Linked DNA regions of Homo sapiens. The protein of the gene in region 2 purifies or fractionates together with the protein of the main gene of each other region. This does not show direct contact. Each region holds a gene or a part of one and is shown on either strand. Other genes may lie near its edges.

Evidence for each region.
Region 1: the proteins of TMEM9B (region 2) and DNAJC13 purify together in Homo sapiens (co-immunoprecipitation; 3 studies listed by BioGRID and IntAct, with this or other methods). This does not show direct contact.
Region 3: the proteins of TMEM9B (region 2) and ABCB9 purify together in Homo sapiens (affinity purification with mass spectrometry; 2 studies listed by BioGRID and IntAct, with this or other methods). This does not show direct contact.

What each region holds. Positions count from the first base shown.
Region 1 is NC_000003.12:132,535,850-132,539,503, reverse strand, and holds the end of DNAJC13 (dnaJ homolog subfamily C member 13), read right to left. Parts: intron 1,329-3,654; coding exon 1,222-1,328; 3' UTR 472-1,221; downstream 1-471.
Region 2 is NC_000011.10:8,947,398-8,951,051, reverse strand, and holds part of TMEM9B (transmembrane protein 9B isoform a precursor), read left to right. Parts: intron 1-2,576; coding exon 2,577-2,732; 3' UTR 2,733-3,654. UniProt on the Homo sapiens protein: Enhances production of pro-inflammatory cytokines induced by TNF, IL1B, and TLR ligands. Has a role in TNF activation of both the NF-kappaB and MAPK pathways.
Region 3 is NC_000012.12:122,956,367-122,960,020, forward strand, and holds part of ABCB9 (ABC-type oligopeptide transporter ABCB9), read right to left. Parts: coding exon 3,269-3,654; intron 1-3,268. UniProt on the Homo sapiens protein: ATP-dependent low-affinity peptide transporter which translocates a broad spectrum of peptides from the cytosol to the lysosomal lumen for degradation.

The DNA.
Region 1 (3,654 bases), on a different chromosome or scaffold from region 2:
TGGCTGTTCTTACACATCAACTGTGGAATAAACTTGGTTCTTGCTTTGAAAGGAAACTTGGAAGTGTGGGTATTTCCCCATTCTTTAAGAACTGTTTGTTTATATTCTCCATGTTTATATTTTCTTGTAGTTTGTGGTCACACTAGAAAATCTATGTGCTGAGATTTGTTACTTGAAAAATCTTCTGGCTATTTAATTTTCTCTTCTTAAAAATAGTAGAATTAATGTCACATATTATTAACAGCCTGACCCATTCCTGAATGTTGTATGAAAAATAAATGAGATGCTGTGTCTGGAAACTTAGATGTGGCTGAAATATTAAAGTTAGGAATGATTAGATTATGTTAATGCAGCCATCTATATGAAGAGTTACGAATGTAAGATAACGTCTGTTTAATACTACATCTGTCTTAGAAATAAAGATAGATATATGAGGTCTTCAAACGGAAAGATTAAACTAGAACAAATATATCTCATTAACAAAGCAGTCAATTCCCTTTATTTTTAAAATTTTATGTACACATATGAATGATCTGTATAATGTACATTCAATATAGAAAGCTTTATATATTTGATAGTGTATAGAACATTTCACAATTACACTCATCTTTTACATAACATCTTGACATCCATTTTTAAATTTTTTTGCACAAGCTCCTTTTCATTCAATTTGGTAAAGCCAGTTATACATACTAATGTGTACTGTGAGCTTTCAGAAGGTTAATGATTGAGGATGCCAGTGAAGGGTGCAGGGACAAAACCTAATAGTCTTGGATGGTGGGGGGAGGATGGCCACGCAGACTTGATGCAGGAGAGGGAAATATTCTTTCCTGGGGAAAAGTGACTTAGCCCAATTTTTGTTGACTGTAGCTCAACCCTACAGTCATGCTAGTTCAAAAAAAAAATTACAAAAACTAGGAAGAAAGTTTTGTCTTTTTGATTCACAGTTTTGTAAACAGATATAAAGGAACAAATGTGCTTACATACACCAAGAAAAAAAAAATTCTTGTGTACCCACTTATGTTGATCCACAGAGTGCTTTCTTATAATGTGATACAATTAGGATCACTGACTTTTTTTCCTAAAAATATATTTATAGAAAAAGGAATAACACTGTCATGAAACCAGGAGAAAGGCAGTAAGAGTTTGCTTCAACGTATCAGCTGGAGGAATGTGGACTTGGCACTGGCCTTTCAGCGTTTATTGTCTCTCGTGAATATTTCAAGTCTGATAGCCAAGGTCGCCTGCCTCATGGTCTACAGGAGGTGGCAGGTTAGACATGACTGATGTAGATGTACCTGCGGTAAGGTAGCCAGCAACTCCAGGTCCTGCAAGAGAGAAAGGTAAACACACACCTCTAGAAAGCAGTCAAGTGAAAACATTGACCTTTATAAAAATGTCAGAACCTGCTCAGGCACTCCATCACACAAAACTAATCATCTATTTCAATTACCTAAATTACATCTATACCTTAATAAACAGCTACATAGTACTATTTTCATGTTTGCCTACACTATAGACTAGAAATCATTTCAAAATGTATGCTGGACAGTAACACTGGTGTGGAAATATGGATAAAATTTTCTTTCTTACATTTGGGAAATTCAATCTTTCAAAAAATTCCGAGCACTGAAAAGAACTATGTCGAATGGAAAAAATGGAAACAGACAGACAAAAGAAACTCTACACTCAGCTCATCCAAAAGTCATATGTGACAAAATTCAACATAAACACTTCTGTCAACACTCAAACTAACCTATTTTCATTTGGTGCAAAGAAATGCTATTATAACAAGTAACACCAAACGAACAAGGGTTGCTAAACCAAGGACTCTGAAAAAGAAAAGGCTCTGGACATCCATCTGTCATAGGTTAAAACAAGAATGCTATGTGAAAGGGTACTGATATTTTAGTCTTATATTTCTCCCTTGATTCTAACAGTTTCTATTGCATGAAAATGCCATATATGCCAGCATTTATCGAGATGTGTCCTATGGGCATATTAATGGCTTTAGCCCTCTAGAGTTTATTTTAAACATTGCATAAACATTTAATTACATCTCAGAAGCACTGCACAAACTAACAAGTACTTGCAAGGGACACTGTAGCATAATACTGCATACTGAGCAATAGTTTTAGCTGAAATTGTAGGAAACAAGGCAAACAACTAAGGAACATTGAGGGTTAGGACTAGAAAGGCAGTGGGAGCGGCATGCATTTAGCAAAACATTTCTCTACCTGCTTCAGAGAGCTACACAGAAGTTAGCAAGCTGCCTGGCAGAGCGGATCTAAAGCCCGCTCCTGAGGTGAAGGGGGCTGCTGCCAGTTAGAAGGGAAGGAGAGACACCTGAGGGGAAAAAAGAAATATAAGCAGCAAGGGAAGTTGTGAGGAAGTGCAAACAGCAGAGTAGTTTGATGAAGGTAGAAACAGGGATTGGTGGAGGACAAAAAGGCCACCATTCAGATTCATCTTGTTTTTGACCTTAAAAGTATTGGTACTATGGATGTGAAATGGCTTGTATAGATACATAGGCAGAGATGACTCAGCCTGTGTGAGCTGTAACTGAAGCCAACCAGAGTGCCCAGGTACTTGGAACGCTGTACTTATAAAAACCTTGTACTTGTAGAACTTACAAAAAATATTTCTCCTTTTTAAGGTACTGTGGGAGCCTGCATCTATCAACTCCTGCCTTGAGCCAATCAGGATGCCAGGCCTTTCACAGTCTGCTCAGGAAAAAGGCCACCAGGTCAACAAACCCTTCTGACAACGCAGTTCAGAGCTACAGCAGCACCCTGTGATCATTTCCCACCACCCTCATATTCTCTGAACTTTAGGCTGCAGCATGATTACTGCAAAACCATCCAGTAGGTGTCATCAAAGATGTAACCCTTAACAGTAAGACCTCAAACACTCCAGACTGTGTAGTTTCTGAGCAATTCTGATTGTGGGCTCAACTTGGTTCCCATCAAAATAGTAGGTTACAAGACCAAACCATGAATGCTGCATCTAGAAAGTGGATTAATGACGCAGTTCTCAAACTGTGTGCTGAGGCACCCTGGGGCATTGCTGGATATTTATTTATTCCCTTTGCCCCTCTGTGTGTGTGTGTATTTAACAGATGGGGGTCTCACTATGTTGCCTTGAACTCCTGGGCTCAAGCAACTCCCCTATCCAGGCCTTGAACTCCTAGGCTCAAGTGATCTTCCCACCCCAGCCTACTGAGTAGCGGATTCGGCCTGTCCATGTGGACTACAGTTGCCTGCCACATCATCCAGCTAACTGCTGGGTATTTTAAATTTGAAACACAGCGCCATCTGCTGACCACCATACAAACAACTACTTTCAAGTTGTCTTGCAATTACTTCATAAACTAAATTATTAGGTATTTCTTTTGGCTTGGGGACGGATGAAAAAATTACTGAGCTATTAAGGGCACTGTGAACTGAGAAAATGTGGGAACCTCTGAGCTAAAATCTAAATGGTGAAATGATGGGCTTAGAAGGAAGAAACCAAATTTTAGTACCATCATTTGCCTCTTTAGGAAAGGCAAATCAAAATCAATTCCCGGATAGTTCTACAAATGAAATCCGAGATGCTCTCCCCAGGACCCTGGCCTCTCCTTGAGGATGTGTCTGGTTTCTTGGGGCTAAAAGG
Region 2 (3,654 bases):
ACACTGTCTCTGTGAGGCCTGGCTGACTCTTGGATGTCTTTTAAACTGATTCTAGGCAGAGAGGTTTTCTGACCAGAGCTGTGAATTTATGGTAACAACTCTACAAAAATAAGTGAATTTTAATTTTTAAAACTGTTGCTTATCCAAGATGTGAGTTCTGCACTATTTATATACTTTAAAAATGTTTTTGTTGAACTATCAGTTTTCATTTTTTCTGTTTTTGTTCAGTGTAGAGCATTTTAAAGCAAATAAAAGTGAGTACAAATAGTTAAGCTCACTGCAAGTAGTCACAATATTTACTATATCATATATCCATGACACATCATCGTTATTACCAAAGCATTACAGTAAAACATGTTTTGTATTTATTGTAATTTTATCAGGTGTGAAAAGAACAAACATAAAAAGGGTAAATCTCTATTTGCATTCCCCCAGCATCTGTGACCATGAGCAGCTAGTTCAATCTCGTTCTGATGGATAGAGAGCAGACCCAAAGGATTAGCTGGTTTGTTTAGTCTTTTGAACTTGTTCCTTAAGAAGATTTTTCTCCCCTACCTTGAAGAATAGATAACAGCACTAGGCAACTGAGAGGTCCTCTGCCGATCAAGTACATCCTTCTTCCCAGTATTGCTTATGTCAAAACAAACCAATGGTGATAATATTTTCCTCCTCTGGTCCTTGACTTCAGGGGATGATATTTTATACACAAATTCACTGAAGCACCATATTCTTATAGTGTCATTTTAATCTACCTGACCAAAATCTGTTTTGAGACAATATAACACCAAGTCAGGGTTAGGCAGGCTAAGTTTTAGTCTTTATGCTAATTTGTTAAATGACCTTGGGTCAATTTATTGCCATAATGGAAAATCAAGCAATTCTATAACTTTAGCCTGCCTCCTTTTTTTTTTTCTTTTTTAGCTTTTTTCTTACATTTTTTAAAACATTTTAAGCCTCATGAAATTGCCTTTATTATTTTCATTTGTAAGGTTAAAAGTTTAAAAATAGGCTATAGGTCCCAGCTACTTGGGACGCTGAGGCAGGAGGATCACTTGAGGCCAGGAGTTCAAGGCTGCAGTGAGCTGTGATCACACCTGTGAATAGCCCCTGCCTTCCAGCCTGGGCAACATGGGTAGACCCTATTTCAAAAAAAAAAAAAAAATTAAGTTCATGGCCAGTCTGGGCAATATAGTGAGACCCCATCTCTTTAAAAAAAAAAAATCCACTTTTTAAATAACTTGAGTTTTAGGATTTGTACAAGCCATTACCTAAATAAAGTGAAAAGTTGAAGGAATTTTGACAAAGAAGAGGAGGAAAGATTCTTTATAAAAACTCTTTGATATCTTTCAAATGTAGACATTGTATAAATGCCTTGCTATAAAAACAAGACCAGGTGTTCTAACTCCTATAATTATAGTTGTATATATAGTTATGTGGTTATGTATATAGCTTTCCATATACATGCAGACTCCTGCCCTGGATATATAATAGAGCTTTTTCAAACATGCACAGCAAAATAATGTTGTTTCTCTCCTAGAGGCAAAGTTTAGTATAAGAGGTACAACTTGTGACTTGGATCTTCTGTTGGAACATTGAGAAGCTTTGCTAACACGGGGTTCAAGAAAAAGAGATCAAGGAAAAGGCAAACAAAAGCAATAAATTACTATTGAATGCTTTTTGTCATTTAGACAGCTGTGTTTATATCTCATTCATAGATAGATTAGCATGGTGGTTTCCTGTGTAATGACTACAAACATCCAGTTGTACTCGTTTACTTTGACCAGGTTAGGTTGGTTTTCTATACAGATACCTGGGCAACCCTTCAATAGCCTCTTTCCCAAGGCAGCAACTTACATGGAAGCCACTGGGTGCTTAACAATGGAAGATTCAATCTTTGTTGAATAGAGAGGGTGATTGTAGCACTTGAGCTGTGTCTCTTTTCATTACACATTGGGGAAGTGGGGAAATGAGGAAGCTTTTGGAAGCTAATCCATTTAGTGTGTGTGTTGAGGGTACAGGGAGAGATTAAAAACAACCCAAGATAAGACTCTGTCGCTCACCCTCCCAGAGTGATGTGGCCCCAAGCTGGCAAGAAAACAATTCTAATGGAGACAGGAAATTAAAAGACAGATCTTTCCTCTGCCACAGATTAGCTTTATAGTATCGAATAAAGCAAGGAAAGACCCTACTTTCCATATCTATAACATGGAGAGATGTTAACATGAAAATAGATTTTCTTTTCCCTATCAGTTAAGGAAGGCTTCTCTTTAACACAAATGACCACTGTCTTTTGCTTGGTCTCCACTTCTTTAAGGGAAATATCTTTGGAAATGGCAATCCATGGGAACGTTTCACAAATACTCTGTCATCGCTTATGTTTCTTGAACCACCTAGGTCTGTACTTGAGTTCATACTCTATCTGGTAGTTGAGCGCTTAGGAGTGCTTAGCTAAATAGATGCTCTGTTGTTTGAAAAGTCCACCTACCCCTATTTCTGTGGCGGGCTGGTCACTGTTGTGTGTCTATGTTTTACACTGACTGTGCCATCTCTAATGTTCTCCATTCCTGGACTTTTAGGATCACCAGCCTTTTGCAAATGCACACGATGTGCTAGCCCGCTCCCGCAGTCGAGCCAACGTGCTGAACAAGGTAGAATATGCACAGCAGCGCTGGAAGCTTCAAGTCCAAGAGCAGCGAAAGTCTGTCTTTGACCGGCATGTTGTCCTCAGCTAATTGGGAATTGAATTCAAGGTGACTAGAAAGAAACAGGCAGACAACTGGAAAGAACTGACTGGGTTTTGCTGGGTTTCATTTTAATACCTTGTTGATTTCACCAACTGTTGCTGGAAGATTCAAAACTGGAAGCAAAAACTTGCTTGATTTTTTTTTCTTGTTAACGTAATAATAGAGACATTTTTAAAAGCACACAGCTCAAAGTCAGCCAATAAGTCTTTTCCTATTTGTGACTTTTACTAATAAAAATAAATCTGCCTGTAAATTATCTTGAAGTCCTTTACCTGGAACAAGCACTCTCTTTTTCACCACATAGTTTTAACTTGACTTTCAAGATAATTTTCAGGGTTTTTGTTGTTGTTGTTTTTTGTTTGTTTGTTTTGGTGGGAGAGGGGAGGGATGCCTGGGAAGTGGTTAACAACTTTTTTCAAGTCACTTTACTAAACAAACTTTTGTAAATAGACCTTACCTTCTATTTTCGAGTTTCATTTATATTTTGCAGTGTAGCCAGCCTCATCAAAGAGCTGACTTACTCATTTGACTTTTGCACTGACTGTATTATCTGGGTATCTGCTGTGTCTGCACTTCATGGTAAACGGGATCTAAAATGCCTGGTGGCTTTTCACAAAAAGCAGATTTTCTTCATGTACTGTGATGTCTGATGCAATGCATCCTAGAACAAACTGGCCATTTGCTAGTTTACTCTAAAGACTAAACATAGTCTTGGTGTGTGTGGTCTTACTCATCTTCTAGTACCTTTAAGGACAAATCCTAAGGACTTGGACACTTGCAATAAAGAAATTTTATTTTAAACCCAAGCCTCCCTGGATTGATAATATATACACATTTGTCAGCATTTCCGGTCGTGGTGAGAGGCAGCTGTTTGAGCTCCAATGTGTGCAGCTTTGAACTAGGGCTGGGG
Region 3 (3,654 bases), on a different chromosome or scaffold from region 2:
TGAGAGGGCAGAGGTAGATCGTAGGAGTACAGGGCTGCAGAGTCAGGGCCAGCTCTGGGTTTGCCTGTCCTCTCTCAGAACATTCTGGCATTGTTATTGCATTGTCACCTCTCTAGGCTCTGTCTCTGTCAGTTAACATTTTTATTTTACTATTTTATTATTTATGTTTTTTGAGATGGAGTCTCACTTTGTCACTCAGGCTGGAGTGCAGTTGTGTGAGCTTGGCTCACTGCAACCTCTGCCTCCCAGGTTCAAGCAATTCTCCTGCCTCAGCCTCCCAAATAGCTGGAATTACAGGCGTATGCCAGCACATCTGGCTAAGTTTTATATTTTTAGTAGACATGGGGTTTCACCATGTTGCCAGGCTGGTCTCGAACTCCTGACCTCAGGTGATCCACTTGCCTCGGCCTCCCAAAGTGCTGGGATTATAGGCATGAGCCACTGTGCCCGGCTAATATTTATATATCTTTTAGCAGAGACGGGGTTTCACCATGTTGGCCAGGCTCGTCTCAAACTCCTGACCTCAAGTGATCTGCCCACCTCGGCCTCCCAAAGTGTTGGGATTACAGGCATGAGCCACCGCGCCCAGCTTAAAATTTTTAAAACTCATAATAGCTAACAACCCTGAGCACTTACCATGACAAGCCAAGCTCTGTACTTAGTCCTTCTCCTATTTTTTTTTTTTTCTTTGGTAGAGACAGGTCTTGCTCTGTTGCCCGGGCTGGAGGGCAGTGGCGTCATCATGGCTCACTATAACTCAAGCTCCTGAGCTCAAGGGATCCTCCCACCTTAGCCTCCTGAGTAGCTGGGACTATAGGCAAGTACCACCATGCCCAGCTAATTAAAAAAACATTTCTTTTAGAGACAGGGTCCTGCTGTGTTGCCCAGAGTGGTCTCAAACTCCTGGGCTCAAGTGATCCTGTAGCCTTGGTCTCCCAAAGTGCTGGGATTAGACATGAGCCACTGCACCCAGCTCTCCCGTTCTTTTCAGCATCTAAAATGTCAGGAAATAAGGACTCCAACAATCCTTGTTGCACAGAGGAGGGAAGTGAGGCTCAGAAAGGCTGGAGAACTTACGCAGGGCCACTCGGCTGGGTAGGGAGCAGGACAGGGATTTGTGCCCAGGCCTCGTTGCCCCCAGAACCTGTGAGCTCCAACCATGCAGTGCCACCTTCCCACCCATGTTGCTGAGTGGTGCCTTCAAACTGTTTGGACCAGACTCACAGGCACAAATACATTTCATGTCACAAACCAGGCCACACCTGCACGTAGGCACACACAACTAAAATATTAATATCTTTTTTTTTTTTTTTTGGTCTCAAACTGCTGAGAGTTTTTTTTTTTTTTCGTTATCTGCCTGCCTCGGCCTCCCAAAGCGCTGGGATTACAGGCATGAGCCACCATGCCTGCCCACTCTGATGTTTTCTAGTCTATTCTCTGATGATCCCAGCTCCAGGAATTTATTCTACAGATCCATCCACATTCATATGAAATGTGTATGAACAGAATTATTGACGTGCAGGTCGGGCGCAGTGGCTCATGCCTGTAATCCCAGCACCTTGGGAGGCCAAGGCAGGCAGATCGCTTGAACTCAGGAGTTTGAGACTAGCCTGGCCAACATGGTGAAACCCTGTCTCTACTAAAAATACAAAAATTAGCCAGACGTGGTGGCAGGCGCCTGTAATCCCAGCTGCTTGGGTGGCTGAGGCAGGAGAATCGCTTGAACCCAGGAGATGGAGGTTGCGGTGAGCCAAGATCGCACCACTGCATTCCAGCCTGGGTGACAGAGCAAGACTCCATCTCAAAAAAAAAAAAAAAAAAAAAATTCATGTTAAGAGGAAAAGGCTCAAAATAACCCAAGAGTCAAATGATGGGAGACCAACTAAATAATCTATGGTATAGCCGCACAATGGAATATTATGAAGCCAAATAAAACAATGAGGTACTGGTTGGAAAAATTCCAGAACATATTGTTAAGTGAAAAGAGCAAAACATAAAACAATGTGGGTGAGAGGTGGGGGAGTGATGCATGTTCTTTTGATGTGCTTGTAGCTGCATAAGGAAAAGCTGGGAACATGCACAAGAATTGAGTAAGAAAGAATGCTTTCCTGGCCACCTGGGAGTTTCTGGGTCCTTTTCCTGCAGTTAGCCCTGGGCAGAATGATCAGGGTAGAATTAGAAGTGAAACACAGCCAGGCATTGTGGCTTGCGCCTGTAATCCCAGTGCTTTGAGAGGCCAAGGTGGGAGGATCACTTGAGCCCAGGAGTTCGAGATCAGCCTGGACAACATAGTGAGATCCTATCTTTACAAATTTTTCTTTTTTTAATTAGCTGGGTGTGGTGCACGCCCCTGTAGTCCCAGCTATTTGGAAGACTGAGGTGGGGGGATTACTTGAGCCTGGGAGGTTGAAGCTGCCGTAAGCTGTGATCATGCCACTGCACTACAGCCTGGGCAACAGAGTGAGACCCTGTCTAAAAAAAGAAAAAAACAGGAGTGGAACTCATAGTTTCCTTTTTCTTCTCTTGTCTTTTACTTTTTCCTTTTTTAAATTGAGATGGGGTCTTGTCATATTGCCCAGGCTGGTCTTGAACTCCTGGGCTCAGGCAATCTTCCCACCTTGGCCTCCCAAAGTGCTGGGATTACAGGCGTGAGCCACCGCGCCTGGCCTATTTTTTCGTTTTAAATTACATAAAATAGAAATGGGGCAGGCACCGTGGCTCACGCCTGTAATCCCAGCACTTTGGGAGGCCGAGGCCAGTGGATCACCTGAGGTCAGGAGTTCAAGACCAGCCTGGCCAACATGGCGAAAACCTGTTTCTACTAAAAATACAAAAATTAGTTGGGTGTGGTGGCATATGCCTGTAGTCCCAGCTACTTGAGAGGCTGAGGCAGGAGAATCACTTGAAGCTGGGAGGCAGAGGTTGCAGTGACCTGAGATTGTGCCACTGCACTCTAGCCTAGGTGACAGAGCAATACTATGTTTCGAAAAAATAAATAAATACAATAAATAAATAAATAAATAAAATAGAAATGGGTTCTCGCTATGTTGCCCAGGCTGGTTTTCAACTCCTGGGCTCAAGTGATCTTCCTACCTCAGCCTCCCAAAGTGCTGGGATTATAGATATGAGCCACTATGCCTGGCCTCTTTTCCTTTTCATATCAATTTGATGTCTGAACCACGTAAGTAAAATCTTTTAAAATCTAAGGCAGTCATATCCACCTAATTTGATGTTCTGGTGGCCACATGTCCCCGAGGTCCTTACTTACCCAGAGCTGCCACGATGAGGAAGAAGGAGGCGGCCACGAGGAAGGCCACGTCGGGCTTGGTGTAGGAGAGCAGCTTCTGCAGCGTGGCCCCAGACGCCTGCTCGGGCGGTGGCCGGCCGCTCCCAGGGAAGCCCTCAGCCTCGGTGGCCGCCCCTGGCTCCAGGGCCTGGGTGCCTGGCCGCACGGTGGACAGCAGCCACCAGAGCAGGAAGGATGCGCCGAGTGAAATGTACGTCCACACGAACAGGGCCCAAAACCAGGGGTCCCGGATGGGCCTGCGCACCTCTGAGAAGAGCAGCAGCTTCACCATGGCATAGATGCCCACGAAGAGGCACACGAGGGTGATGACCAGCCACGAGGCCCGCAGCCGCCGGGGCCCCAGCGCA